Linked DNA regions of Homo sapiens: region 2 is linked to region 1. The links come from fine-mapping of genetic effects on plasma protein levels. A gene starts in region 1. The other region holds a variant in brackets. All regions are shown on one strand. Distances are from middle to middle.

Region 1 (14,668 bases):
TTGGTGTGTTTACAATCCCTGAGCTAAACATAAAGGTTCTCCAAGGCCCCACTGGAGCAGCTAGATACATGGTGTCCATTGGTGCACTCACAAACCCTGAGCTAGACACAGGGTGCTGATTGGTGTGTTTACAATCCCTGAGCTAGATATAAACACTCTCCACGTCCCCACCAGACTCAGGAGCCCAGCTGGCTTCACCCAGTGGATCCCGCACTGGGGCTGCAGGTGGAGCTGCCTGCCAGTCCCACGCCATGCGCTGGCCCTCCTCAGCCCTTGGGCAGTCGATGGGACTGGGCGCCGTGGAGCAGGGGGTGGCATTCGTCGGGGAGGCTCGGGCTGCACAGGAACCCACGGAGGCGGGGGAAGGCTCAGGCATGGCGGGCTGCAGGTCCCGAGGCCTGCCCCGTGGGAAGGCAGCTAAGGCCCAGCGAGAAATCGAGCACAGCGCCCGTGGGCTGGCACTGCTGGGGGACCCAGTACACCCTCCGCAGCCGCTGGCCTGGGTGCTAAGCCCCTCACTGCCCGGGGCCGGCTGGCCGGCCGGCCGGCCGCTCGTAGTGCGGGGCCCTCCAAGCCCACGCCCACCCGGAACTCCAGCTGGCCCGCAAGCGCTGTGCGCAGCCCTGGTTCCTGCTCACGCCTCTCCCTCCACACCTCCCCGCAAGCTGAGGGAGCGGGCTCTGGCCTTGGCCAGCCCAGAAAGGGGATCCCACAGTGCAGCGGCGGGCCGAAGGGCTCCTCAAGTGCCGCCAAAGTGGGAACCCAGGCAGAGGAGGCGCTGAGAGCAAGCGAGGGCTCTGAGGACTGCCAGCATGCTGTCACCTGTCAATACCAAATTGCTCCTGTTTCTATGCTCGCAGTATCATTGTCTTTGATAAAGATAGATACGATAGATTATATATAGTTTGTTTTTTAGAACTTCTGAATAATATAGAGGCATTTTGTTATTGTAGATGCAAGCAGTCAGAAATATATTGCATTTCATCTACCTTGTAAGTTGACATTGTAGTTTTGTAATAAAGAAATTTCAAAAATTACCAACAGTGTCTATTTAAAATTTACCGTGAAGAATGATAGCACATGCTGAGTTGTCATCAAAATATTGGACTCTCAAGTTGTCGTGAGACTCGATTGAAATATGGAAGTTCGGCACCTCTGTTTATTTCAATCCAAGTGTGGAAACCACCAGAAAACAGAAAAGCACCCAAAACTCCACCAAGTGCCAATGTTCCTCCAGTGACACAATGAATCTTGAAAGTACGTCATGCTACAAAGGACATGAAAAAGCAAAATCTAAAGCAACTAGAGAAAGGAATCTCTACAGCAATCAAATACCAAATTAGAAGAAGGCTTTTTGTTGTCGTTTTGTTTTGTTTGAAGAGTTTTTGCTTTTTTGGAAACAAAATGTTTTGCTTTCTCCATGCATCATGAAGGAAACAAAAATACACAGCTTGTTAAATTTAGTTGCGGCTCTGTCACAACAATGATGACAAAATTTTCCTCTGACCACAATGTGTTTGAGTACAAATGGTTCCTCTTTCCAGGCTCTGGCCTGTGCATACACAAATTCCTAGTGAGGTGAGACCCACTCCCCCACAGCGGGGCTCCTTCTTTTTTTTTTTTTTTGAGACGGAGTTTTGCTCTTGTTGTCCAGATTGGAGTGCAATGGTGCGATCTCGGCTCACTGCAACCTCCGCCTCCTGGGTTCAAGCGATTCTCCTGTCTCAGCCTCCCGAATAGCTTGGATTACAGGCATGCGCCACCACGCCCGGCTAATTTTGTATTTTTAATAGAGGCAGGGTTTCACCATGTTGGCCAGGCTGGTCTCGAACTCTGACCTTAGGTGATCCGCCCGCCTCGGCCTCCCAAAGTGCTGGGATTACAGGCATGAGCCACCGTGCCCGGCCCTACTTCTTGAGAGTGGAGAGTGAGGATCCAGCTATCCTTCATACATGAAGGTGCTAAGGAATTCAACTGTATCCTAGTTGGTGAACGCTATGGCCTTTAAACTCATTCACAAAAACCGGTGATCCCAGCTGATCTAATTCCACCATGGCCAGCCAGGAGTGGTGCCCAGCGTTGGCTATGTGTACCTTTGCCAGCTTGTGGAGTGGGGATCAGTAGACAAGGCACTCCTCCCTGATCCTGTCCCTGCTGTGCCACCAAGCCCCTTTACATTGACTCTCTTCCCCAAAAGGGCTTCATCATTGCAGCTTGTGCATGTAGCTTGCCTGGGGATGAAAGGGTAAGAGGAAACAGGAAATTGAGTGGCAATAAAGGAGAAATGAAAGAAAAAGGACTAAGAACAAATGGGACAATGTCAGCAGAAAGGAGAACAACAGAAGCGGAACCTCAAGAGACAAGGGAACTGTAAAGATGAAAGAGTACTAGAAATTCTAATAATAGTTCCCATTTATTAGTGCTTATTATGTGCTAGGCACTGGATAAGCATTTTATGTCAGTTTCTTCATCTCATTTAATCGTTACAATAAACCCTGTGGTAGGCACTATTATAGCATTATGCCTGGTTTACAAAAGATAAAACATGCTCTTGTTATTTAAAAAGGCCAAAAAAAAAAAATGCCCACAACATTTAACACAATTCTAGAAAGAAGATAAAAAGAAACAGAAAAATGGGACAAATAGAAAGCACAGAATCAGATGGTAGATATAAGTATAAATATATTAGAAGTCTGGCTGGGTGTGGTGGCTTATGCCTGTAATCTCAGCACTTTGGCAGACCAAGGTGGGAGGATCACTTGAGCTCAGGAGTTCAAGACCAGCCTGGGCCACGTAGGGAGACCCCCCCATCTCTACTAAATTAAGAAAAAAGAAAGAAGTAAATCTAAGTGAACTAAAGTCTACAGTTAAAAGACAACAATTGCCTATTGGATAGAAAAAACCGAATTTGCACTTTATGCTGTTCCCAAGATCAGACCCAAAACATAATTGCACTGAAAGGAAAATAAGGATGTAAGAAAATGTACCAGGTACATACTAAACAAAAGAAAGTTAATGAAGTTATAATAAATTAGTCAAAATACACTTTTAAGACAAAGAATAGTACTTCATTAATGAAAGGTACTTCATAGTGATAAGTGGTTTGGTTCACGAGGAAACTATAACAATTCTAGATTTGCGTGTATTTGATGAAATAGCGTCGAAAAAGATATATAAAGCAATAATTAACAGAATTATAAGAAGAATTTGACAAATGCACCCTCATAATATCATAGTGAGAATCGTTAACACCCTCAGTAATTAGCAGGTCCAAAGGAACAAAAAACCAGCAAGTATGTTGATTTGACCAACACAATCCACAAACTTGACTTAATGGAACGTATAGAACACTGGGCCCAGTAATTGGAGAATATGCATTTTCCTCAAACACTCATGGAACATTTACAAAAACAAACTATATGTTGTGACATAAAGCAAACCTCATCACACTCGCAAAGATTGGTACCATCCTGGAAACTGGGAATAAGAAGTTAAGGAGGGGTCCTTGCTTCTGTGGCTGAGAAGTAGCAAGGCTGGTGCAGCATAGCACCAGGGATGCCAATGAGGTCACACTGCAGTCAACTTGCTCTATGACTGAGGGTCGGAAAAGGCAGTCCAGGTCAACGACTATGGGAAAGATGGGTTTATGCAGGGACTGAACTGGGGTGGGTTTTGCTGCTCCTCCAGAAGCCTGGTATTTTCCAATCCACAAATGAGGCCTCAATTCTGTGCTTGCACAGGGATCTGTCCAATAGCTAGATATGCAGAGTGACCTCTGGGGATGCTATTGGGATATGCAAATGACAGCATTAATGGGGTGGAGTTACAGATATGCAAAGAGCCCCCTCCTTGGAGAGGTGTTGTGGATTGGGGCAAGAGGGACTAGAGGCTTCTTTGTTTAAATGAAAATACTAATTGCCCTACACTTTCAAAGCAAACAATGGAGACCTTTCAAGGCAAGAAGGTGCAGGTGACTAACACACAAATGGAGCATTTGAATCTTTCTTTCTTTCTTTTTTTTTTGAGACAATCCTGCTCTGTCGCCCAGGTTGGAGTGTAGTGGCGTGATCTCGGCTCACTACAATCACCTCCTGGGCTCAAGCCATCCTCCAGCCTCAGCCTCCAGAGTAGCTGGGACTACAGCATATGTTACAGTTCCTGACTAATTATTATTATTTTTTTTGGTATTTTTTGTAGACATGGAGTCTGGCCATGTTGCCCAGGCTGGTCTGGAACTCCTGTGCTCAAGTGATCTGTCTGCCCCAGCCTCCCAAAGTGTGAATGTTTAAACTGAGGAACCCTAAGGCCGAGGAGAGATCCTAACGCCAGGGAACTGAGTGGCAAAGCACTAACGGGGCTGGTAAAGTGTACAAGGATTGGACCTGTCCTGCCTGGACCAGAACAGGGGACAGGCCCTACATAGAGTTTTAGATCCAGGGTGGGGAAAGTGCAGTGAAAAGGTTGTAGGGGATCCTGGCTAAGATGCCAGGGTAGTGGTAGTGGCAGTGATGATAGCAACGCAGCCAGAAGCCAAAGGAGGGGACCTGGATGCTAAGACACAGAGGCCCTTCCTCTTTCAGAGACTGAAGTGTTGGAAAACAGAGCAAGGCCAATTCCAGAGAGGAAGGGTTGGCAGCCTGGAGGAAGTGAGGCCAGGGAGCTTCTGAAAGGAATAATGAATGCTTTCAAGGGGAGCAAGAGAGCGTAGGGGCTCCAGGCCCCAGGAACATGCTCCTGTGTAGAGCAGCACCCCAAGTCATTTTGCCCAGGGAAGAATCAGCCTCCTGGCACCTGGGCTCTGACTGATGGAGCCAGCAGTTTGCCTGGAGGCTGGCCCTGTCCCTGGCTGCCAACACCTCAAATATTCTTTCCTGGGCCTTCTTACCTCCAGACAAGAATTAACAAACTCTTGGTAATTCATCTTAGAAAGCAAAACACCACGTATTATGTCAGCATCTTGTTTGTAAAAAGCCTGCTGTGACTTCTTATTGCTTATGAGGTCAAGCCATAAACTGACTGCTCTCTCTCTCTCTCTCTCTCTCTCCTCCTAACCTCCCTCTCTCATTCTGGTCATCCTTCAAGGTCTAGTTCAACTCCCATCTACTGTACGAAACCTTCAAAAGCACAGGCCTGTGTCACCTTTCTTTGAACCCATATCACAGATGAGCATTTGTACCATTTTTGTTTGTTTGCTTTTTACATTTTCTCTAATTGCTCTCTATACCTTTCCACAACTTAGACCAGGAGTTTCCTAAGAGCAGGCCTTTGGTTTGTTGGTTGGTATTCCTCACAGCACCTAGAAAAATGTACAATTTATTTATTCAATTAAAATATATTTATTGAGCATGTATTATGTGCCACATATAGTTTTGAGTGCTGGGGATCCAGCTGGGAACCGATCAGAAAAAACTTCTTGCCCTGATGGAGCTTACATTCTAGTGGAGACAGCAAATGACCCAGGAAGCGGAAGGAGAGAAAGGAAGTGGCCATGGGGCTTGCAGTTTTCAATGGGGTGGCCAGGACAGGTCTCAGTGAGAGATCTGACAGAAGCCAGGGAGTGAGGCATGAGGATATCTTGACGGGGAGAGAGCAAATAGCCAAAGAAAAAGTCAAGGCAAAGGCCCTCGGGCAGGAGTGCACTTAGCTTGTGTGAAGAACAGCCAGGTGGTCAGTGTTGCTGGAGGAGAGTAAGGGAGCCAAGGAGAGCAGTAGGAGAGAAGGTTAGAGAGATAATGGGGTCAGATAGGGTAAGGCCTTGGAAGCCATCTTGAGGACTTTAGCATTGGAGATTTCTGGGTAAAGGGAGTGCCTTGTTGAATTAAAGAGTCAATTTAATAACTGCTGTAGGCTGGGTGCAGTGGCTCACGCCTGTAATCCCAGCACTTTGGGAGGCCAAGGCGGGCGGATCACCTGAGGTCAGGAGTTTGAGACTAGCCTAGCCAACATGGCGAATCCCCATCTCTACTAAAAATACACAGATTAGCTGGGCATGGTGGCATGTGCCTGTAATCCCAGCTACTTGGGAGGCTGAGGCAGGAGAATCTCTTGAACCCAGGAGGTGGAGGTTGCAGCGAGCTGAGATTGCACTGCAGTCCAGTCTGGGCAACAGAGCGAGACTCCATCTTAAAAAAAAAAAAAAAAAAAAAAAAAAACCTGCTGTAAAGTTTGGAGGCCCACAGGTCTACGGGTTTCAGGACACTGACCCAGTCACCTAGAAGCGTGCCTACTCTCAGGCAAAACCCAAAGGGTCCTGTCAGTGGCCTCTTGTGCAAGCAACACTCCCTTGAGTGAACTCCACTAAAACTGTAGAAGAAAACCACCTGCTGAAGAGCAAGGACCTTTAATTCAATTAAACCCAAACATTGAGAATGAGTTATGAGCCACTAACCATGTTCCATTCATCTTTATATTCTCTGTGGTGCCAGAGGATGCCTTTCTCCAAGCTCCCCCGACTCAATCCACTCAGAATCTAAGTAAGAGTAGAGCTCTTGCTGTACATACATGGCTCCAAGACAAGGCCCCTGGGGATTGTTCCTTCCAATCAGATTACCACCACTAAGCTCCTCCTAGGTAGAAAACCTGGAGTCACCCTGGACAGTCTGACCTCCAGGAGCTTGAATCCAGTGGCAGAAATAGACATGCACACAAACCTCTGTGTGATTTGATATGATAGAGGAACGTGTCTGGTGCTATGAGCACACACACAGGAGGGAGCAAAGAATTTTGCATTTGGGAGTTAGAGAAGCCCCTAAAAAATGTGACACTTGAGAAATGGAAAAGCATTTTAGATAAAGGGAACAGCAAGATAAAAGGTTTGCAGTGAGAAAATATCACAGGTGACAAACAAGAACCGGGCAAGTCATAAGTGAGGAAACGCTGACTAGGCCAGGGAGCAATAGGGAGCCCTAGGGCATGTGCAGACAGGAAGTACATGCCCTGTTAACAAGGTGGCAGCCCATCTGACATCTGCTGACGGTTTCTACACTGAAACAGGTCCAATATTACCAGGACTTTTGATTTATTAAGAGAAGCTGGAAATCTGGGGCCTTAGGCAAAATCTCCTGACTTAAAAAAAACACTTTGGCATCTAGATCCCCATGAATTCCAACATGATATGGACCAAACACAATTGCTCACAAGGGAGATTCAGCCTGAAGGTGGCCAGTCAGCCACCTGGAACCTGGAAGCTTGGCTGGAAGTGAAGCTAGGAAGAGTGTGGGGAATCTAACCTGAAGAGGCAAGCCTGCAGGCAGAGGAGTTGAGACTGCCTTTTGTGGCATTTGATGAAGGGAGGGGTGTCACTTAAGCTTAAGCTGAGGAGTGACATGGACAGATTGCTCATTGGGAAGATCTGTCTTGTAAAGGGTAGACCCTCATGGCCAGTTTGAAGACTGTTTCTGGAATGGTAATAAAGTCCTGAAATAGAACCATAGAGGCGAAACTGGGTGGTCGGGGGAGGAATAGATCTGAGAGATGTTTTACCATCTAATCAGTGACTGCAGGACTAGACAGTGGATGGGGAACTGGGGGTACGAGATACAGGAAAGGGAGTTGTCAAGAGTACATACTTTTAGCATTCATCTCTAATTTTGGCCAGGCATGGGGGACAGTGGGTGGGTGGGGACCAAATACAAAAGACAACAAAGAGTATTCTAGCTTAGGATCTCTCTCACCTTTGGCGCTGTTGTCATCTTGAGTAGAGTAAGTCTTTGTTGTGGGGGCGGTCGTGTGCATTGTATTAACAGCAGCATCCCCAGCCTCTACTCACTGCATTCCAGAAGCATGCCCCCGCTTCAGTCATGACAACCAAAAATATCTCTCCATATTGCCGAATGTCCCCTGGGATGTAAAATTGCCCCTGGTTGGGGGCCACTGATCCAGAATCGGGAGGGAAATTCCCTGTTTTCAACTTCTCCTTTTTCTTTGTTTTGCAGTGGTGTGAGGTTTTGCTTAGAGGACTCTTTGTGAGATTTTTGTCTAAGGGACCAGCACTTTTAGCTAAGCCCTTGGAATATGCTGGTGTCTGTGTCCCTTTTGGACTCAGGAAGGTGTCTCTAAATGGATGGAAGGACACCTGACTTTGGAAAGAGGGACATCATTCTTTCCTGCCAGACATTTTCTTGCATATGCCCTTTTCAGCCTCCAGTTACAGAAATGGACGAAGACTTAGTGAGAAGGGCAAAGGTCAAAACAGTTGAGTGGAGTGGCCTAGGTACACAGGGCAGCGCAGAACTCCAGCCACCCCGGGCCAAAGTGAAAGAAAGGCCACTGGTAGTCTCGCACCCAAGTCATCAGGACTCTAAGGGTTAAACTTGATGTTGACTCATCATGATTTTGATTTACACAAAGCCAAACTGAAAGCTCCTTGTCTACTGCAGTTCCTGGAAAGCCTTCTATCTGTCTTCATTCTTCCTGCAGACCAGGGCAGTGGCCTGATTCAATCCAAGACGCTCTTCGAATCACACTACACGGAGATTACAAATACAAGTTTTATGTTGAAGAAACAGCATTCCTGACTCTTTCCACCCCCTTCCAAAAATTTGAAAAATCGTTGCATGATGTTCAGGGTCGGGAAGAAAGGAAAGTAACAATATAGTCTTAAGGCCAGCAGGCCGGAACTATCTTGGTGAAAAGAAATCAGGTCTCTCCCCTCTCCACACTGCCGTTTGTTTTTTTTCCTCACGATGTTCAGATTCTCAGGGCTTTTCTGGAAGCTCATGACAAGCTGCAATCCCTATTTTTCTAATCATTTGCTACCATTACTGTTTTATTAAGCGCTTGGTCAATCTATGCCAAGCAGTGCCCATGATGGCACTCAGCCAGTCCCCAGGGGCTCCTGTTCCAACTAAAGACTCCTTAAAAGGCAGATGACATAACCATTTTGGAAACGTTATTATAAACTTATTGTATAATGTTTATAGCAAATGTCAACAAGTGTATATGTCCGTGGTGGTGGAGGAAAGGCCTTGGGATACACAGTGGCTGACCTATTTGTGGGAGGGATTTAGAAATAATGATACTATCTCTCAGTTCTACAGGCCTTGATACTTTACAAACTGTTTTCATAAACATTATTTTGTTCGATAACACATGCAAGCCAGGATTTATTTTTTTTTTTTTTGAGAACGGGGTCTCACTCTGTTACAGACCCAGGCTGGTTTTGAACTCCTGGGCTCAGGTGATCCTTCCACCTCAGCCTCCAGAATAGCTGGGATTACAGGTGCATGCCACCATGCCTGGATTCTGGAATTTATTCTGAACCGTTAGCCAAAAGAATCAACATCCTGAGATTCAGCACAGGCAGGCCCTCCTCCTGGAAGCTTCCCTTGCTCCTTCCCTCCCAAAAGGTACCCTTTTTGTATCCCATAATTCCTTGTTCTTGCCCTTATCATTGCCCCTCAGACTGACTGCAGCTTTCTGTTAGCAGAGCTTGCTTTTGGTGAGTGTCTTCAACAGTTCCTGGAACAATTTCATAAATATTTATTGAGTTTGAGAGCCTTAATTCCAAGAGTGGAACCTTTGTTGTGAATAGGTTAAACAACCCTGTGCCCTTTGGGTGGGGTCTAGACTAGGTATATTATCAGCATTTTTATTGCTATACTTTTTGTAACTGTTTTCAGGTATATGCATTGGCTTAATTCGGCCAAAATACACCTCATTATGGGTCTCATCATCCACCTAGACATGATTCTTTTTTGGGAGAAGGTGATAGAATAATGTCCCCCTCCCATGATTCCATATCGTGATCCCCAACACCTGTGAATATGTTAACTTACATAGCAAAAATGACTTTTCAGTTATGATTAAATCAAGGATTTTGAGATGGGGAGATTATTATGAATTATCTGGTGGACCTAATCTAATCACAAGGGTATTTATAAGGGAAAAGGGGAAGTAAGAGGGTCAGAGTCAGATACGACAAGGGAAGCAGAGGTCTGAGTAGTTCCGCAACAAGCCAAGGAATGTGGGTAGCCTCTAGAAGCTGGAAAAGTCAAAGACACAGATTCTCCCCTAGAATATCCAGAAGGAATACATCTCTGCCCACACCTTGATTTAAGCTCAGTGTCACTTCTGACCTCCAGAACTGTAATAAAATAAAACTGTTAAATCACTAAATTTGTGGTCATTTTTGACAGCAGCAACAGGAAACGCCTAAGGACTCTTGTTTTCCTTCCTCCCAGCCTCACTGACCCTCATAGGCGCCCAAGTATCAATGTGTATTCTTCCGATTCACCTCCCATCCCTTTGAAAAATATGTAGAAAGTTTGTCGTGTGCTTTAAAAAATGCACGTATGGTATCCTCCCTCATGTTTGGAATGTTCCTTTTAAAATCAACATTATGTATTGCCAGCTTTCAAATATGCCCTTTGTCCTTTTCACAAAGCACAGTACTGCCAGTGTCCCCAACTCCACCCAGTGAAGTAGGGCTGGTATTACTAACCCTGGAGTCAGCGCTAGCAAACAAGGGCTCAGAGGTCAAGGGCTGGAAGCCAGGTCTCCAGACTCCCAGGCCAAGGCTCTTTTCCGCAGATGACTCTGTCCTGGTGTCCAGCAGGGCACAGCCCCTAGCACCTCCGAGGCCCCGCAAGTGTGCTGGCAGCGGCGACGCCGGCTCCGCCACGCGGAGGGAGGAGGCCCAGGCAGCGCCCGGAGTGGGCGGCGACGTGGTGGAAGAAGTTTTGTTCGGTCAGAGACCGGACGCGGGAGCTGCGGGTGGGCCAGGTGTCCAGCCTTGGGAGCCGTAGGAGCCGCCAGAGCCGCCAGAGCCGCCGGCGCCCCGCCCCGCCTCCTCCGGCCGCTCTCGCCGGCTCAGGTTACCTGAGGCCGGTGGGCGGGGCGGCCCTTCCCGTCTGCGCCGGCCCCCAGCCTCCAGGGCGGCGGAGCCGGGAAGTGGAAGAGGGAGCGAAGGAGGCGGGGACTGCCAAGGCTCCAGCCCGGCCGGGCTCCGAGGCGAGAGGCTGCATGGAGTGGCCGGCGCGGCTCTGCGGGCTGTGGGCGCTGCTGCTCTGCGCCGGCGGCGGGGGCGGGGGCGGGGGCGCCGCGCCTACGGGTGAGTGCGACCCTCGGGGCCCGAGGGGCGGCCGGAGGGCTGAGGGCGGTGAGGGTCACGGCTGAAAGGCCCCGGAGGTCAACGCCGGGCGGAGGGCCGAAGCTGGGGTGGGTGCTGGGGGCTGCCCTCGCGAGGCCCCGCGCTCGGCGGCTGCGGCTTCCCGCGCGGGATCTCTGGGGCCCGGTACTGGGGCCGGTTCGAGGTGGGACCCGGGAGCTGCGGGGTTTTCCCGAACTCCGGGTGCGGCGGAGGTGGCGGCAGCGAAGTAAGAGGGCTGCGACTTGTAGTGGGAAGAGCCCAGGAGGCTGGCGTCCAGGCGTGCGGGGGCGGGGGGCCCGAAACATGCCCACGGCGTCAGAGGGCCGTGGGTCAGCGCCCGGAATGTCGCCTGTGAGCCCGGGAGGAAATGAGGCGCCAGAGCCGGCGGGGACCACGACCGAAGTCCAGGCGAGCTGAGAACGCGCCGGGGCTCTTTGCCCGAGGCCGCGCCAATCCTCACTGTCTAAGGGTGGCTCTTGCGAGTGGAAGTTGAAGGGAACCTCTAAACATCTCAGTCCTTGTTGAAAAAGGACGTGACGCTCATGACCTCCTCTGGCGTCGAAGAAATCCTTTGGGAAATCCAGAATAGCATCCCGGCAGATGCTCCCCCCACCCCACTCTCTTTAATAAACCTTATATTTTAGGGTAATTGTAGATTTATGGAAAAGTTGCAAAGATACTTCAGAGAGTTGTGTATATCCCTCACCCTGTTTGGTAACTTCTAGTTAATCAACCTGGCAGTTGTGAAAAATTGGGAGTTAATGACTTCCTTAGGAGCAGCTCCTGGAAGGAATGGCCTTCTGGACGTTTTTGGTGACAATGAAAGCCCCAAACTGTATAGGTTTTATTATCACATTGACACAAACACTTATATATGCTTATTGCATTTTTACCAATGTGCTTTGAAATCCAAGTTGAAATGTTGATTAGGAAACCTTAATGCCCTCTATGGATTCAGTCAATAAAATACATGCTGCCAGGCAGTGTTTAGGGGCTGAGGATGCAGCAGTGAGCAAAACAGATGAGGTGCCTGCCCTCAGACATATCGGGGGGTGGGGGTAAAATATATGATATGTCTGAGGGTGTTAAGTAGAGAAAAACAGAGCAGGTGGGAAGGGGTTTGCCATTGTAAAAAGGGTGGATCGAGAAGAAAACAAATGTTGCTGAAAGGTGGCATTTGAGTAGAGACCTGAGGGAGACTTGAAGCTTGTCAGTCAATAATTATTCAGGTGTCTGCCTTATTTAGTACTGAGTCAGGCCCTCTAGGTTGACTTAGAACCTGAGAGTGTATAGCAAAATTCTTGCCCCAAAAGGGCCTCTAGTTTAGTTGGGTACACCTGATTTCCGTAATCATATGGGGACATTGCAGTCCAGAGAAGGGAAGGAACTTGTCTAAAGTTACCCGTCTCATTAGTCTCCTGATTTTCACAGTGCCACTCCAGCACCCTCCCTCCTACAGACTCACTCCCACACACACCTGAAACAACAGCTGGCCATCTAGAGAATACTGGCAACTCCCAACTTCATCAGTCCTGTCACAATGGTTTGTCGTTAGCTTGCTTATTTAGAAAACAAACTTCTTTCCCCATTAAAAGTATTGATAGAATTGCATTGAGGTATGGTGGGAAAAAATTAGATGTTTCCAGTGAGACTTGAGTTTTAGTGGTTCTGATATTTACCACCTGTGGGACTCTGGGCTGGTCATTTCCTCTCTTTTGTGCTGCAGTTAGTTTTCTCATCTGTGAAATGAGGAGGTTGAACTGCATAAATTCTAAGAGCTCCTCCAGCTCTAATCCTCAGAGTGTTTATAAAAGTGATTAGATTACTAGCTTAGTTTAACCTGTCCCACTCAATGGCCCACATTGTGGCATGTCTTAATTATAACTAGCATGTATATAGCATTTATGCCCAGCAGTTTTCTAGCTGCTTTACTTGTACTATTTCATTTAATCTTTACCAATAATATAACTTGTAGGTGCTGTTATTAGTCCCATTTTGTACACGAAAAAGTTGAGGCACAGTGCGACCAAGACCCTTGCCCAAATTCGCATACCTGGCAAAGTGGAAGAGCTAGGTTTCCAACCCTGGCAGCCTGATTCCAGAGGCCATGCCCTTAACCACTGTACTCATTGCTTCTGCCCAGCAGAAAAGACGAGAGTCCTTAGCTGGACACCTCCCAGGGTAGCAGGGCAGGACGGCTTGGGACCCACGAAAGTATGTGCAAGCCATTTGTTAAGAAGCTAATGATACTATATTAGGCCGGGTGCAGTGGCTCATGCCTGTAATCCCAGCACTTTAGGAGACTGAGGCAGATGGATCACTTGAGGCCAGGAGTTTGAGCCTGGCCAACATGGCAAAACCCCGTCTACTAAAAATACAAAAATTAGCCGAGTGTGGGATTACATGCCTGTAATCCCAGCTACTCAGGAAGCTGAGGCATGAGACTCATTTGATCCTGGGAGGCAGAGGTTGCAGTGAGGGAAGATCAGGCCACTGCACTTCAGCCTGGGCGACAGAGCAAGACTGTCTCAAAACAAAAAAAGAAGCGAATGATACTACATTGGAGACTGGCTTTATAGTGGCTGGGCTGTGTGGTCCAAACAACTAGTACTATAGGCATTCAAAAGAGAAAAAGCTGACGGTTGGTAGTGTTATGGAAGAGGTAAAACTTGAGCTAGATCTTCTGGATGACTGGGATTTGAGTAGGTGGAGAATTTATTCCAGGTGGGGGCAATAGCAGGAGCAGAGACCCAGAAATGAGGGCAAGAGTGCTCCTTTGTGGTCAAGAAGGAACCTGGCTTGGCAGGAGAGTGCATTGGTAAAGTCAATCCAGGCAGAATAGCTTGATTTGCCCTTGAAAGCTCTGAGTCCGGCACAGCATGGGAAAAATAACACAGAAGGAGGAAGCAAGCAGGGAGACTTCACTGGGTAGGGGAGCCCCTGGAGTGTGAAGCTACATAAGAATCTATGGTTGCAGGTCTCCACTAGAAAAATGTGCTGCGAACCCTTCCTGTCCAGGACCATGACTTACTGGTATCTTCCCACCTGGTGGGGCACAACAGAGCATATTTGCATGATTGGGGTAACTAAGAAAGATGTTGGAAGAAAAAAACGAACAGGAGTTGATGCCTGAGTGGATGTAAGGGAAGGGACAGATGACTCATATATGACTCTTGTGATTTCCTTAACTTTTCCCAAAATGTGCATGCCTCTGCTAGCTGCTGTGATTGGACAGGCGAGAGCAAAAGCTATAAGCTAAGCAAAATGCCTTCTTATGAAATAGTAGATTGTGTTAACTCTTAATTTAAATAGGATGTTGTGCTAGATGACTGTACAGACTTGGGATTTGAGGTTTAGATACAGACATACTTGGGTCCCTTCCTACTCCCTTTTCTGAAGTCAGTGGTGCAATCCCCAAGACATGGTTGAAATTAGGTGCCTAAGGGAAGCTTATCAGGTAGAAGGGATACTTGTTCTGTCTCAAAGGCCAGGGACACATATCAATTCAACAGAAAACCAAAGCAACCCTGGCCAGGCACAGTGGTTCACACCTGTAATCCCAGCACTTTGGGAGGCCGA
Region 2 (14,692 bases), 84 kb after region 1:
CCTCCCACTATGGCCTCCCAAAGTGCTGAGATTACAGGCATGAGCCATTGCTCCCAGCCAAGATGATTTTTGTAAAATCATTTTTTGTCTAAATATAATCTTCACACATGATTAAAATTTTTACTAGGTGAAGAATTACTAATTGGAAACAATTTCCTCTGAGAATGTTGAAAGCATTATTCCGATGTGTTGTTGCTTCTAGTGTTGCTTTAGAAATGTCTGATTTCTAATTTTCTACATGTAACTTTTATCTGCAAGGTTTTCTCTTGGCCTCTTTTCTCTTGGTGTTTTAAATTTTAATGATATGCCTTATTGTGGATCTTCTTCCATTTACTGGGCTGGACTTTGTGAGCCCTTTCAATCTAAAATCTCATGCTTCATTTTTAAGACATTGCTTTCTATTATTTCTCACACAATAGCTTCCCTTGTGTTTTCTTTATCTCTAGGATTCCTATTAGTTGTACATTGGACATCCTGGACTGATTCTGTAATTTTCGTATCTTTTTTCTCCCATGTTCCCTTTATTTGTCTTTTGGTTCTGCTTTTTGGGAGATTTTCTTAACTTGATCTACCTGAGGCTCAGTCCTCATCTGTAAAATGCTGATAAAAGGACCTACCACCTAGCGTTGCTGTGAGGTGTCAGTGAAATAAAATGTAAAATGCTTAGCACAGTGAACTTTAATAAATGGTAGTTGTGGTTGCACATACTGTTATTCTGGAACCAATTTCTTGTCCCTCCTCATGTGAAAATGACAATCTTGGTTTACAATATCATACTATAATATTTGCCTTCATTGTAGTGAATTTGTAATGACATGGCATTTTCCAATTATACTGTTTTTAGAAAAAAATTCTATGGTATAAATCCAGTTAGCAACATTAATTCTTATTTATGCTTCTACAAACACTTAAAAGTATTTTTTTTCTTTTTTCTTTTCTTTTTTCCACTCTCCCCTCATCCCTGGGGTAGATGAGAACTGGAAAAATAATGCTGGGTATCCACTCCCTGACAGTGAAATAGGTAGTTTGGAGCCCCAATTAATTACTTTGTTAGGATGAGAGTGCAGATCAAACCTTTAACATGTGAGGGTTGCCGTACACTCTGCCTGCTATGCAGCCCCAAATAAGGCTGGCCAGTACCTAGGAGCACTGAGGAGGCTAATGGACAATTAACAAACATCGAGTCCAGAGGAGGCCTGGATTCTCTGTAAGCTTTGCAGCCAAAGGTGGCCCTGCCTGCCCACTTAGGGCCCCATGAAGACTAGAACTAGAATTACAGAAAAAGAATGTCTGCAAGTCAAGAACAATCTGGCTTTACTACTTTATTTTCATTCCTTCATCTGTTCAGTTGGGGGGCGATGTTAAAGCTATGTGACATGGGCACCAACCAGTCAGGTCAGATGCTGGCTATAATTACTTGGTAGGTTATGTATCAACCCTGGATTCAACAGATATTTATTGAGTGTCTACCATGTGCCAGCACTGTGCTAGCTAGGTACTGTATGATGCAGGGCAAGTTTCTTTCTTTCTCTGAGCTTCAGTTTGCTCACTTGTGAAAAAAAAGGAGTAAGTGATCTACAAGGGCTCCTTTAGGTCTAACATTCGCAATCAATAAAATAGTAACTTTTGATTGTTTTGGGAAAATAATGGAAACAGCTATAGAAAACAAGCAGCTGACCTAAGACTTGTAGATTTGAAAATGGGGGAAAAAACAGAAAATTATTCTGAGTTATTGTTTGACTTGAGATTTGGATTAAGAATCAGTTCTACATGTCTTATTTTCATGATGTTTCCAAAGGGAGACAAAGATAGCTCTAATCAAAGGGTGAGTTTGTTTTACAGCCTTGAACATTCAAGCTCCACCCCACTATCCCCCACCAACATGCATATACAAGACACCTTCCCCCTAAGGAGGCTACTACTTTCTTTTAGCATCCTCTCTCCAGCTGCTACACTTCAAACCCTTTCGTTCAGTGGTTGGCAATAGCTTGTCCACTCTGGCAAGAGTCCATGTTCCAAGCCTTTCTTAACTTCCTCTTTTCAGACTTGTCCTGCCTCATTTCCTGTTCCTTGTGGCCTCTGCCTCATAAGATGTTTGATCAATTCATCTTTGCTAATGTAGCCAAGGAGGGCTAAGAAGTTTGTGGGTTACCATTTCTGGATAAAATTCATATTACAAGGAGCCTCCCCAAACCATGCTACCACTTTTATGGTGGATTAAAAAAATATTATGGGAAAGTTCAAACATATATAGAAGTAAGGAGACTGTTACAGTGAATGGTCATATACCCATCAACTAGCTTCAACAATTATCAAAATGGTCAATCTTATTTCATTTATACTGCCACCCATTTCCTACTTCCTACATGACGAATTATTTTTAAGCAAGTCCCAGACATCACATCATTTCATCTGTAAATACTTTAGTATATATCTCTACAAACTAAGGACCCTTTTTGTTTTAAAAAACTGCAATACCATTATCACACTTTAAAACTAAACAATAATTGCTTAATATTCTCAATTATCTAGTCAGTGTTTACATTTCCCCAATTGTCTCATAAGTCTTTTTTTCCTACAATTTGCTTGAATCAGGATCCAATAAGGCTCACGGTGATTTTTTAAATAATGATGCTTTGTAATATACAGGGGTGAGAATTTGGGAACAAATGATTGTTTGGCCTTTAAAATCGTACTACATTGGCATTTAGGAATGAATACAGCCCTGCTGCCACAAAGTAGCTCTTTTTCCCTTCCAGATTGCTTTGACTAAAAATTTGTTTAGCATCCCATTGGATTCTGGAAATTCTTCTTGTTTTCTCTTTTCCTTCCTTCCTTCCTTCCTTCCTTCCTTCCTTCCTTCCTTCCTTCCTTCCTTCCTTCCTTCCTTCCTCTCTCTCTTTTTTTTCTTTTTTCTTTCTTTCTTTCTTTCTTTTTTTTTTTTTGACAGAGTTTTGCTCTTGTTGCCCAGGCTGGAGTGCAATGGTGCGATCTCGGCTCGCTGCAACCTCTGCCTCCTGGGTTCAAGTGATTCTCCTGCCTCAACCTCTCAAGTAGCTGGGATTACAGGCGCCCGCCACCACGCCTGGCTAATTTTTGTATTTTTAGTAGAGACGGGGTTTCACCGCGTTAGCCAGGCTGGTCTCGAACTCCTGACCTCAAGTGATCCACTTGCATCAGCCTCCCAAAGTGCTGGGATTACAGGCGTCAGCCACAGTGCCCAACAAATTCTGGAAATTCTTTATAAGCGTAGTCAGACATCTGTGAAGGAAGTGAAAACTGAAGTTTGGCCTTGAAGCTTAGAAGTTCTCACACAACCAAGACATAGTCTTCCTTAAAACAGAAAAAAAACACAGCCATGCATACACACACACACACACACACACACACACACACACACACACAAATGCCAACTTCTAATATGTCTACGGAATGTTTTTGCAAATGGTAGTACAGAGCATATCTGTGTTGTGTAATTTTTTCCCACATGATAAGGACCAATATAAACAAATTGGAAATGTGATACTAAAAGAGAGTACTTCAGCATGGATTAATTAAGACCAATATGGGGCAATCCTTTTCTGATATTTTACAATGCACTGAAAATTTTAAAGCAAGGTGGAAAAATAGGCTTATGGGTCTGAATGTTAGGTTGAGAAAAATTATCTGTGGTCAAGTGTGTGCTTTGTAAATCTGCTGAGTTTACACTTGATCATGCAGTTTTCTATAAGTTGCTGGCTTGAATACCACTGGGAAATATACAGACCATGTGACTATGAAACCAACCCAATTGTCCCACAGAGCTGATGTTTCTGATCTCTTTGAATAAACATAGAAATTGATCCTTCCAGTCTTAAAACTTGAGAAAGTTACATTTGTCTTATCTGAATTCCTTTCTCAGGAAACAAACCATCAGGCCTCCCAGAAAGTATCCGGGATCTGAAAATCACCAAATCACCACATCCGGACAGTGAGAAGCCAGATCCCTCACCCTTCTTGATTGGCTGACAAACCAACTGCTTCCTGTTGACCAACTCCTCTTCCTTATCCCTCCCTAATTCCTGTTTTCCCACACATGGTTTCACTTCTTCCCTGCTATACAAACACCTAATTTTAGTTGGTCAGGGAGATGGAATTGAGACTGATCTCTTGTCTCCTTGGCTGCTGCACCTGATTAAAGCCTTCTTCCTTGGCAATACTCATTGTCTCAGTGTTTGCCTTTCTGTGCAGTGAGAAAACAGGACCTAGATGGAACTCCTGCTGTTTTGGTAACATTACTACAGACCTCTCAGAATGGCTAAAATAAAAATAATGACAACACCTCAATAATAGTAAGGATGCAAAGAAATCATATCACTCATATATTTCTTGTGGGTACATAAAATGGTACAGCTACTCTGAGAAAGAGTGGCAGTTTGTTTAAAAACGAAACATGCAACTATCACATGGTCCAGCAATTGTACTGTTGGGCCTCTATCCCAGAAAAATAAAAACATATGTTCACACAACAAACTTTACA[T/G]AAATGTTTATAATGGTTTTATTCATAATTTACAAAAACTAGAAAAACTCAGATATCCTTCAATGGGTGGGTGAATGGTTGAACAATTTTTGGTACAGTCACATCATGGAATACTACTTAGCAATAAAAGTGAATGAATATCACCTCACGCTCATTAGAATGGCCACTATAAAAAAAAACCCATAAAATAGAAAGTGTTGGTGTGGATGTGGGGAAATGAGAATCCTTGTGTGCTATTTGTGGGATTGTGAAATGGTGCAACAGCCATGGAAAACAGAATGGTAGTTCTTCAAAAAGTTAGAAATAGATCTACCTAGGCTGGGTGCGGTGGCTTACGCCTGTAGTCCCAGCACGTTGGGAGGCCGAGGTGGGCAGATCAACTGAGGTTGGGAGTTCCAGACCAGCCTGACCAACATGGAGAAACCCCGTCTCTACTAAAAATACAAAAATTAGCCGGGCGTAGTGGTGGGCACCTGTAATCCCAGCTACTCGGGAGGCTGAGGCAGGAGAATTGCTTGAACCTGGGAGGCAGAGGTTGCGGTGAGCTGAGATCGTGCCATTGCACTCCAGCCTGGGCAACAAGAGTGAAACTCCGTCTCAAAAAAAAAAAAGAAAAAAAGAAAAAAAAAAGAAAAAAGAAAAAGAAATAGATCTACCATATGACTCAGCAATCCCACTTCTGGGTATTTATGCAAAAGCATTAAAAGCAGGGTCTTGGGATATTTGCACACCCATATTCATAGCAGCAGTATTGAAACATGGAGTCTGGGAGCAGCATTCCTATGATCAGTGTCTATGCTATTCCACTTTGTGCTTTTATTAATTCATTCAAGAAGGCTTTTGACGAATATAGATCGTGTACGAGATGCTGTAGTAGATTCAAAGAATAGAGCATGCTTTCTTTTCTTTTTTAAAAAATTGAGATGGTGTCTCACTATTTTGCCCAGGCTAGTCTCAAACTCCTGGGCTCAGGTGATCCTCTTGCCTGCCAAGTAGCTGGGACTACAGGTGCAGTGCATACTTTCTGTCCTATTATTGCTGATAGTCCAGTGCAGGAATGGCAAATTTGTTTCATTTTGTGGATCAGTTCTTCTGGAATACTGTTTCCCGAAGGATTTTGAGATTGGGTTTGGGCTCAGTGGGAAGATGGCTAAGATCTATCAGTGATGTCTCTTGTTGGGTACTGGTGGGGGGGTGTTGATGTACTTGTGCCACATGGTTGCCACCTTGGCTAAGGGCTAGAGTGACATATTTATGTATATAAATAATGGATTATCAACAAGACAGAATATTAGCAATTAGAGTTATGAAAGGAGGTCCAAGTAAAGTGCTGTATACAGGCAGTGGAAAAAATGATGGGGGTGTCGGGGCTGGGAGGATACCCAGAAAAGTTTTTTGAGGGCAGTGCTAGTTGGTCTGCACATTAAAGCAAGAGTAGAATCTGAAGAGATTAACAAAAGGGGGCATCCCTGTCCTCAGAAGGAGTTTGAGTAGAGTGGAAGGATGGATTGTGAGAGAAAGATGACAGAGATAAGCAGATGACCTAGGGATTAGGCAAGAGGTGGAGAGGATCCGCTCCATGCCTGGCAAACAGGAGAGGAGGACACAGATCTGAAGTAGTTTAGAGGTTGACTCACCAGGACTCCATGAATGGGAGGGAGATGCTCAAAATGTTATAGAGAAGCACAGGCTTGGGTGGGGAATGGGGAGTAGATGAGAAATACGAATTTCATTTTGGACATGTTCACTGTAGTATGCTAGAGGAACCATTAGGTTATGATTTCCTACAGGGTTGGGGACACTCACGGATGGCAATGAGAGGAGGGCAGCTTCAAGAGTCAGGGTTATGGGAGCCAGCTGCCAGGGAAAGACCAATGAGGTCATTCCCAAAATAAGACACATTGCAAGCCCTCTCAGCACAGTGTGAGGACAACCCAAATCTAAGCTAGCTCTGGGGGCAGTCATGGCATGGTAGGTTAGATGTCAAAGCAGAGACTTCATCACGAACTTGGCAGCCCAAGAGTAACACACTGCTGCCATCTGGGGGCTGCATGTAGAAATTGTAATGGCAGCTTTGTGAAAGCCACTTAATGAGAGAGGACATTATTTTGGAACCAGCAAGACCCTTCCTCTCAAAAGCCTTTTATAGTTCTTCCTTAAATTCTTTTCTGCCTAGTTCTACTTCTCTGTCCCCAATGAAGGAAACCATGGGTGCACATGTTCTGTAGCATATTTCCAGAAGGACTGAACCCCTGAAAGCAGAATACTTTCAGTCAGCTACAGCATCCTAGCACTGGATTGAGATACTCCATGCTGCTGCTGCTACTGTGCTCTAGCAACTGACCAAAGTTCTTGCCTGAACCACCCTCTGCCGGATCTCCCAAATCCCCTCATTTTGACTTCATCACTGCCTGGTTCTGACCTTTGATACTAGAATACTGAATTTTTGCCTCCAGGGGCACAATTTACTCTTCTATGTTTTCTTTTGCTAGCATCTTTTTCCTAAGTGGAACTGGATTTTCATTTACTCATTTTTCATTCAACAAACATTTATTGAGTGGCCACAGTGTGTCAGGTACTAGGATACATTTGGGAGCAAAAATAGATGGGTCCCCTCAGAAACCTGTATTACAGTCTAACTGTAAAGACAAAACAATCATTTTAAATGTGATAATTGCTATGAAGGAAAGGTCAATGATGCAGTGAGATGTAGTGAGGTGAGATGAAGAAAAGGTCGATGAGGCTGTGAGAACAGGTAACAGGGGATTCTGACCTAGTCTTGCAGGGTAGCAAAAACTTTTCTGAGGATGTGACATTTAAGCTGAAATTTTAAGGATTGGTAGGAATTAGCCAGAAATTAACTGTTCTGAAAACTATGAAACCTATAAGACTGGGAAAGAAGGGGCCATCCTCCTTGTTCCTCTGTCTTCTACAGTGGTAATACAGCAGGGAGATTCAATTGCTTTACATAGGACAGTCTCTAGGAAGATCTTTCATTCTGAATTAGCATGTCAACTACAGTGAAAACATGTCTAAAAAATAACAATTACAACAACTAGAAAATCAGGAAATGTAGAAATAAAGAACCCCCCCTAAAACTCCTCCAAATTAGACTGCCCTAATGAAAATAGGAATAGGTATAAACAGACAAAGAAATACTAATGTTCTTGAAGTCTTGAAATACTATCTTTTGGTTTATTTCTTTTCATTTTTATTTTTCATTTAAATAATTGAACCGATTTTTTATTTTTTGAGACAGGGTCTTGCTCTGTTGCTCAGGCTGTGGTGCAGTAATGTGATCACACCTCACTGCAGCCTTCAATTCCTGGGCTCAAGCAATCCTCACACCTCAACCTCCTGAGGAGCTGGGACTACAGGTGTACACCACCACACCAACTAATTTTTTTTTTTGTATTTTTAGTAGATACAGGATTTTGCCATGTTGTCCAGACTGGTCTTGAACTCCTGGGGTCAAGTGATCTGCCTGCCTCAGCCTCCAAAATTGCTAGGATTACAGGCGTGAGCTGCTGTGCCCAGCCGAACTGCTTTTTAAAAATCTCCATATACACTTATTTGAACAACTTGATCATAATTTCTGAAATCTTTTAACACATCAGACCTGAACCAAATCAAGATACCAAAACCCACCTGAGCTTCAGATGCCTCATTGGTAAAATAGGGATTATAGTATAGTAATAGCTACATCTTACGGCTTTTGGAGACTTAATGAGTTGACACTTACAAAGCACACCATTGCCCTGCTCATTGTAAGTGCATAATACATGTTAATATTATTATTCCAGGGCTGACCTGTTTGTAGAAGGTGTCAGGGGAAAATATTTCCAGGTTGATGGAACGTTGAGGTTGCTTCAACCCCATGCCATGGTTGGTTACTTCAGCTACGCAAGGACCAGCCCCGACATGAGAAATGATAAGTGAAAAAAAGAGAATCAAGCCCAGTACATAGCATATAATTCACCTGGCCTGCAGAAGTACACACAAAAGCTTATTCTGTAGTTCATATTCATAAGAGATATCCCCTCCCTCGTTCCTAACAGGTAATCGTCTAGTCTCTGCCTAAATCCCTGCAGCAACAGGGAGTGCCCTATTTATGGAGAAAGGCCATTTTATTTATTGATAGTTCTAATTTTCTGGATCTATCTTCAAATTCCAGAGTAAAAAGTCATTTTTATCATGTATCTTCCCATTAATCTTCCTTATGCCCTGGAGAACCAAACAGAACAAAAAAAGTCCTCACTCAAAATTGGCAAAATTGAGTAAGGACATAGATTACAATATTGCATCAACTATCAAGTGTCCTAATTTTGGTAATGGTCTTCTATAAGAATGGCTGTGTCCCTGGGAAATATGCATTGAAGCATTAGGGAGTAAAATGGCATGATGCATGTGACCTGCCTGCAAATAGTTCCTAAAAAAAAAGAACATTAATATGTAAGTAATGAGAGAGAGTGATAAAAACAAATTGCCAAAATATTTAAAATTGGTGGGATCTGCATAGATGGTGTATGGGAATTATTTGTTCTACTTTTACAACTCTTCTGTAATTTTTAAATTATTTCTAAATAAAAAGTTAATAAAAATCCTGGGCTGGGCATGGTGGCTCACGCCTGTAATCCCAGTACTTTGGGAGGCTGGGGTGGGTGGATCACTTGAGGCCAGGAGTTTGAGACCAGCCTGGCCAACATAGCTAAACCCCATCTCTACTAAAAATACAAAAATTAGCTCGGTCTGGTGGTGCACACCCATAGTCCCAGCTACTCGGGAGGCTGAGGCAGGAGAATCGCTTGAACCCTGTAGGTGGAGGTTGCAGTGAGCCAAGGTGGCACCACTGCACTCCAGCCTGGGCGACTGAGCGAGACTCTTTCTCACCAAAAAAAAAAAAAAAGATAGTAAAAATCCTCTCTCTTCCATAGCAAAGCTCTTCAAAGGTTTGAGAGCAATTACCACATTTATTCTGTTCTACATTTCCATCTCACTTATTTGCTTACTCTTCACTCATTCATTTATTCTTTGATAAATATTGATTGAGCACTTGCTTTGTACTATGCCCAGAGCTGGGCACTGTGGAAGTGGTGGAGAAGAAAGTCAATTCTACCTGGCTCTCATGGAATTCAGGGGCACTTGGTGGAGTCCAAAGGTAATCAAATTATTCTACAAGTAATTGTATTATTTCTAACTCTGATAGGGCTATGACATAAGAATCAGGGAGGGTGGGATGGTATGAGAGAGCCTGCCAGAACGTTCTGAACCTGCTAAGTGGACCCAGCATTTAAGGTTGTAGGGGTGCAAAGGGCAGTGTGCCAAAGAGATTAGCATTCCTTTATGAAAAATCTCTTGGCTGAGGGGAAGGATTTGTGAGCCCAGGTGAGCAGCTTTGGACAAGCTGTTCCATTTGTCAAGTTGTTCCATCTGCTTCCTTAAGTGTCACAAAGTATTGAAGAGAGATTGCCTGGGCTTGAATGACAGCTGCTGTTTCCTAGCCATGTAGTTGTGAAAGAGGATAGCAGAGCCTTGGTGCCTTCACGCAGATTGAGACCCTTGTCCCCCATCAATCATAGCTATGTCTGATGGCATGGCTATGGCAGTTGGGTCCCTTGCCACACAATTTCAAGCCTGGGCCTGAGTTGAGCCCAGATGAGTCCTGGGAACAGAAACTCCAACAGGAATCATGTCAGTTTCTGTAACAGGATTTGCCTTGCAACCTAGATGAGAAAACTGAGCTTTAGAGTCATCAGCATGTATTTTTTTTCCCAAGAAAAATAGCCATTAAATGTGGGGGTGGATTTGAAGATCAAGCTGAGAATGTGCATGTGAAGCTTAGCACTTAGAACATAATATGCCTCCAACAAATGGCAGCTATCATTCTTTTCATCACTGATACCAAGGTGGGCTGAGTGAAGAAAAATGAGGTGGCTGAGGATGCTGGATATTTAATACCTCCAGGGCACTGTCAAGGGACAGGGGACAGGGCTCCAAATGGAAGGATGCAAGAACTTGCTTTTTTTTCTTTTTTTTTTTGAGATGGGGTCTTGCTCTGTCGCCGAGGCTGGAATGCAGTGATATGATCTCGGCTCACTGCAGCCTCCACTTCCTGGGCTCAAATGATCCTCCCACCTCAGCCTCTCGAGTAGCTGGGACCACAGGTCCACATCACCATGCCTGGCTAATTTTTTATTATTTGTAGAAATGGGATCTCCATATGTTTCCCAGGCTGGTCTTGATCTCCTGGACTCAAACAATCCTGGCACCTTGGCCTCCCAAAGTGTTGGGATTACAGGCATGAGCCACCGCACCCAGCCGAGAACTTACTTTCACCCATCTCATAGTTTTGCTTGTGATGATCACCTAGTATTCTAAACAGTCAGTACTCGAACTCTAGTGCAATATTATTCATTCAATGAATGTTTATTGAGTACTTGCTATATGACAGACACTGTCCAGGTGCTGGGGCTACACAAGGAAACAAAACAAGTGAACACTTAGCTTCATATTTCTATATACCATGAGAGTTTTCACAGTGCTTTCATGTCCATGATTTCATCTGTTCCTCATGACAATACAATGAGATAGGTCCTATTATTATTTTCATTTTATGGGTGGGGGAACTGATATATCCAGAGATTAATTAATTAACTCAAGAGCGATAGAACCCAGGCCCCAGGTTGTAGTTTAATGCTCCCTTCACCACACACACATTCGGAACGGCCACCATCCTGATCTACCTCTTGCCAGTCTCCCTCTTGCCAGTGGGCCCCCAGGGCTTTCCAGCCTGACTTCTGCCTCTGGACCCCACCCTCCTCCCCCACTTGCTCTAGATCTTGTCTCTGCCACAGCAGTCCAGCTGATCAGTCAGCAAGGATTTCTGAAGCACCCAGCACCATGATTTTACCATGATTTCCCAAAGGGCTACTTGGGTCTCAGTCATTTCAGTCAATCCAGACCAGCAGGCTGGCCTACATTTTCTGAGGTGTTGCAGCTATGCAGAATTGGTTGGACTTTTTGCTGGGCCCCTCTATGGTGGTGCTTTGGGAGGGCACTCTCCTGTGTTCAGATAACTGGGGCAGAATTAGAGGAATTAACAAAATAACAGTTTTGGATGCCAGGTTCCCCATTAGGAGTTTGACTCTGCACTCCCTCAGATTTGGTGGCGTGTGCTCTCCTGCTGGTAATACACTTCCTGTGACCTGGAAATCCTACTGCTATATTCCTTAGGTTTGGCCAGACTTTAAAACCCGCCAGATCATTGCAACTTAAGCAACTTCTAAGAACATCTCTTTACCAGGTGTTATTTAGAGAACGCAAGAGATTTACGTCTGCTCTGAAATGTTACATTGGCACTATATAAACTTTCCCAGTACACAAAGCTCTCAGGCTTTTGGACATGTTTTCTCCTATTAAGTCATATAAATAGCTTAATAAAACAGTATTTGGTTAAACATCATTTGAATTTCCCACTGAATGATGGTTATATTCAACTCCAAGAAAACGTGGAAAGTGCAAAGGCTTTGGAATTAGACGGATCTGTTTTCAAAACATTACGCCACCTCTTAAAGCTGTGTGACTCCAGGCTTCTTACTTAACCTCTCCGAGTGTCAGTTTCAATTACACATACCATGCCTGTAATCCCAGCACTTTGGGAGGCCAAGCGGGGTGGATCATTTGAGGTCAGGAGTTTAAGACCAGCCTGGCCAACATGGTGAAACCCCAACTCTACTAAAAATACAAAAATTAGCCAGGCGGTAGTGGTGCACGCCTGTTATCCCAGGTAGTCGGGAGACTGAGGCAGGATAATTAGTTGAGCCTGGCAGACGGAGGTTGTAGTGAGCTGAGATCACGCCACTGCACTCCTGTCTGGGCAACAGAGTGAGACCTTGTCTCAAAAAAAATGCAATTGTATTATTTTCATGTATGGTATCTAGAATAAATGGAAAATAGGACAATAACAGACATACAACAGGGACTCAGAATTAATGTATCTCATAACGAGCTTTAGAAAGAAATAATAACAGATGCCAATTATAAAGCACTTACATGTCAAAAAACATACTCAGCTGGGTGTGGTGGTAGGCACCTATAGTCCCAGCTACTCGGGAAGCTGAGGTGGGAGGATTGCTTGAAGCCAGGAGTTGGAGGCCACAGTGAGCTATGATGAGTACAGTGAATGGCCACTGCACTTCAGCCTGGGCAACAGTGAGTTCCCTTATCTAAAAAAAATATTCACAAGGTATTACAAGGATAATCTTCTTTAATATGCACAGTAACATTTTAGCTAGATGATATTATAATCTCCACTTACAGATATGGAAACTGAGGCCCAGAAGGATTGTGAAACTAAAACTTAAGTGGTAGATGCAGAACCTATTTGGTTTTGCTGTAGAGCCTGCATGCTTTACCACTATTTCCCTATCTTTAGTGCTTTGCACAGGAACCAAAGAAGCACGTCTTTTAGGAAAGTCAAATCTTTTTACTCTATCCAACACTCTCTCCACTCCTATTCCCTCTTTTAATCTTACGGACACTTAATTTAGGAACCCTTTTCTTGAAATATCTGGAATCAATAGCCTGGCTCAGTCCAATATTTTAACAATTCAGTGTAGTCCACATACACTCAGGTGAATGAGTTTAATGTTAACAGTTTATTGAAAATAGAACAGATATACAGAAATGTGCATAAAACATGTATGTAGATTTTTAACAAATCGTTAGAAAAGAAATACCCATGTAACCACCAAGAAAGATCAGAAATCAAACACTAGGATGCCACAGAAGCCCTCTGTGGTTCTCTTTTTAATCAAAGCTCTTCTCTCACCCCCAGGCGGAACCACTAGCCTGACTTTTATAGGAATAGTTCCATGCTTTCTTTTAGTTTTTGATCATCTCTGTATGCAAGTCTAAGCAATATAGTTTAGGCTCACCTTTGTTTGAACTTTATATAAATGGATCCACACCGTAAATATTCTTTTTCTAAAAAAATCTTTATTGTGATATAGTGTACATCTTTAAAATTCATCCTTTGAAAGTGTACAATTCAATGGTTTTTAAATATATTCAGTTACATGACCATCATCACAATCAATTTTAGAACATTATCATCACCACAGAAAGAAACCCTGTACCTATTAGCAGTCACTCCCTTTTCCTTCCTACCCCCAACCCCTGGCAACCTCTAATCTACTTTCTATCTATGTGGATTTGTCTCTTCTGAATATTTCATATAAACAGAATCATACAATATGTGGCCTTTTGTGTGGCCATCTTTCACTTAGCATAGTGTTTCCAGGGTTCACCCATGATGTAGCATGTAAAAGCACTTCTTTCCTTTTATCCATTCATTAATTGATGGACATTTGAGTGGTTTCCCCTTTTCGGTTATTAATAATGACACTATGCACATTAGTATACAAGTTTTTGTGGCCGGGCACAGTGGCTCACGCCTGTAATCCCAGCACTTTGGGAGGCCAAGGCGGGCAGATCACGAGGTCAGGAGATTGAGACCATCCTGGCTAACACGGTGAAACCCTGTCTCTACTAAAAAATACAAAAAATTAGCTGGGCGTGGTGGCAGGCACCTGTAGTCCCAGCTACTCAGGAGGCTGAGGCAGGAGAATGGCGTGAATCCGGGAGGCGGAGCTTGCAGTGAGCCGAGATCACGCCACTGTACTCCAGCCTGGGCGACAGAGCGAGACGCAATCTCAAAAAAAAAAAAAGTTTTTGTATGGACATAGGTTTTCATTTCTTTTGGGTATTCACCTGGGAATAGAATTGCTGGGTCATATAGTAATTCTATATTTAACCTTTTGAGGAAATTTCCAAACTATTTTCCAAAGTGACTGCACCATTTTACATTCCTGTGAGCAATATTTCAGGATTCCAATTTCTCCATATCCTTGCTAACACTTGTTATTATCTGTCTTTTTAATTATAGCCATCCTAGTAGGTATAAAATGGTATCCAATTGTGGTTTTCGTTTGCATTTCCCTGATGACCAAATAATGTTGAGCATCTTTTCATTGGCCATTTGTATATCATATATATTCCCTGGAGAAATGTTTACTCAGATCCTTTGTCCATTTTAAAATTAAGTTGTCTTTTTATTGTTGAGTTGTAAAACTATATATACTAGATAAAGATCCTTCATCAGATATATAATTT

Direction of the effects. Alleles are on the strand shown, and positions count from the first base shown. The strength of an association depends on the size of the effect and on how common the allele is.
With allele T in place of G in region 2, the plasma level of the protein whose gene starts at base 10,930 in region 1 is lower (weak association).

The links. PIP is the chance, under the fine-mapping model, that this variant and not a neighbour inherited with it causes the effect. Protein levels are from antibody-based Olink assays in UK Biobank. Linkage for the fine-mapping came from a reference panel and not from the study's own genotypes, which makes the PIPs less certain.
Region 2: its variant is fine-mapped to the plasma level of the IL13RA1 protein (UK Biobank, PIP above 0.99).

Annotation. Positions count from the first base shown.
Region 1 is chrX:118,716,677-118,731,344 of GRCh38, forward strand. It overlaps IL13RA1 (interleukin 13 receptor subunit alpha 1), which reads left to right and starts at 10,930. Exons shown (of 11, transcript NM_001560.3): 1 at 10,930-11,050. The coding sequence starts at 10,963. RefSeq lists a silencer at 10,539-10,968.
Region 2 is chrX:118,801,031-118,815,722 of GRCh38, forward strand. It overlaps a transcript of IL13RA1 not described here. Among named protein-coding and RNA genes, the nearest start is that of ZCCHC12, 15 kb to the right of the region's middle. The variant T/G (reference allele first, on the strand shown) is at 4,520.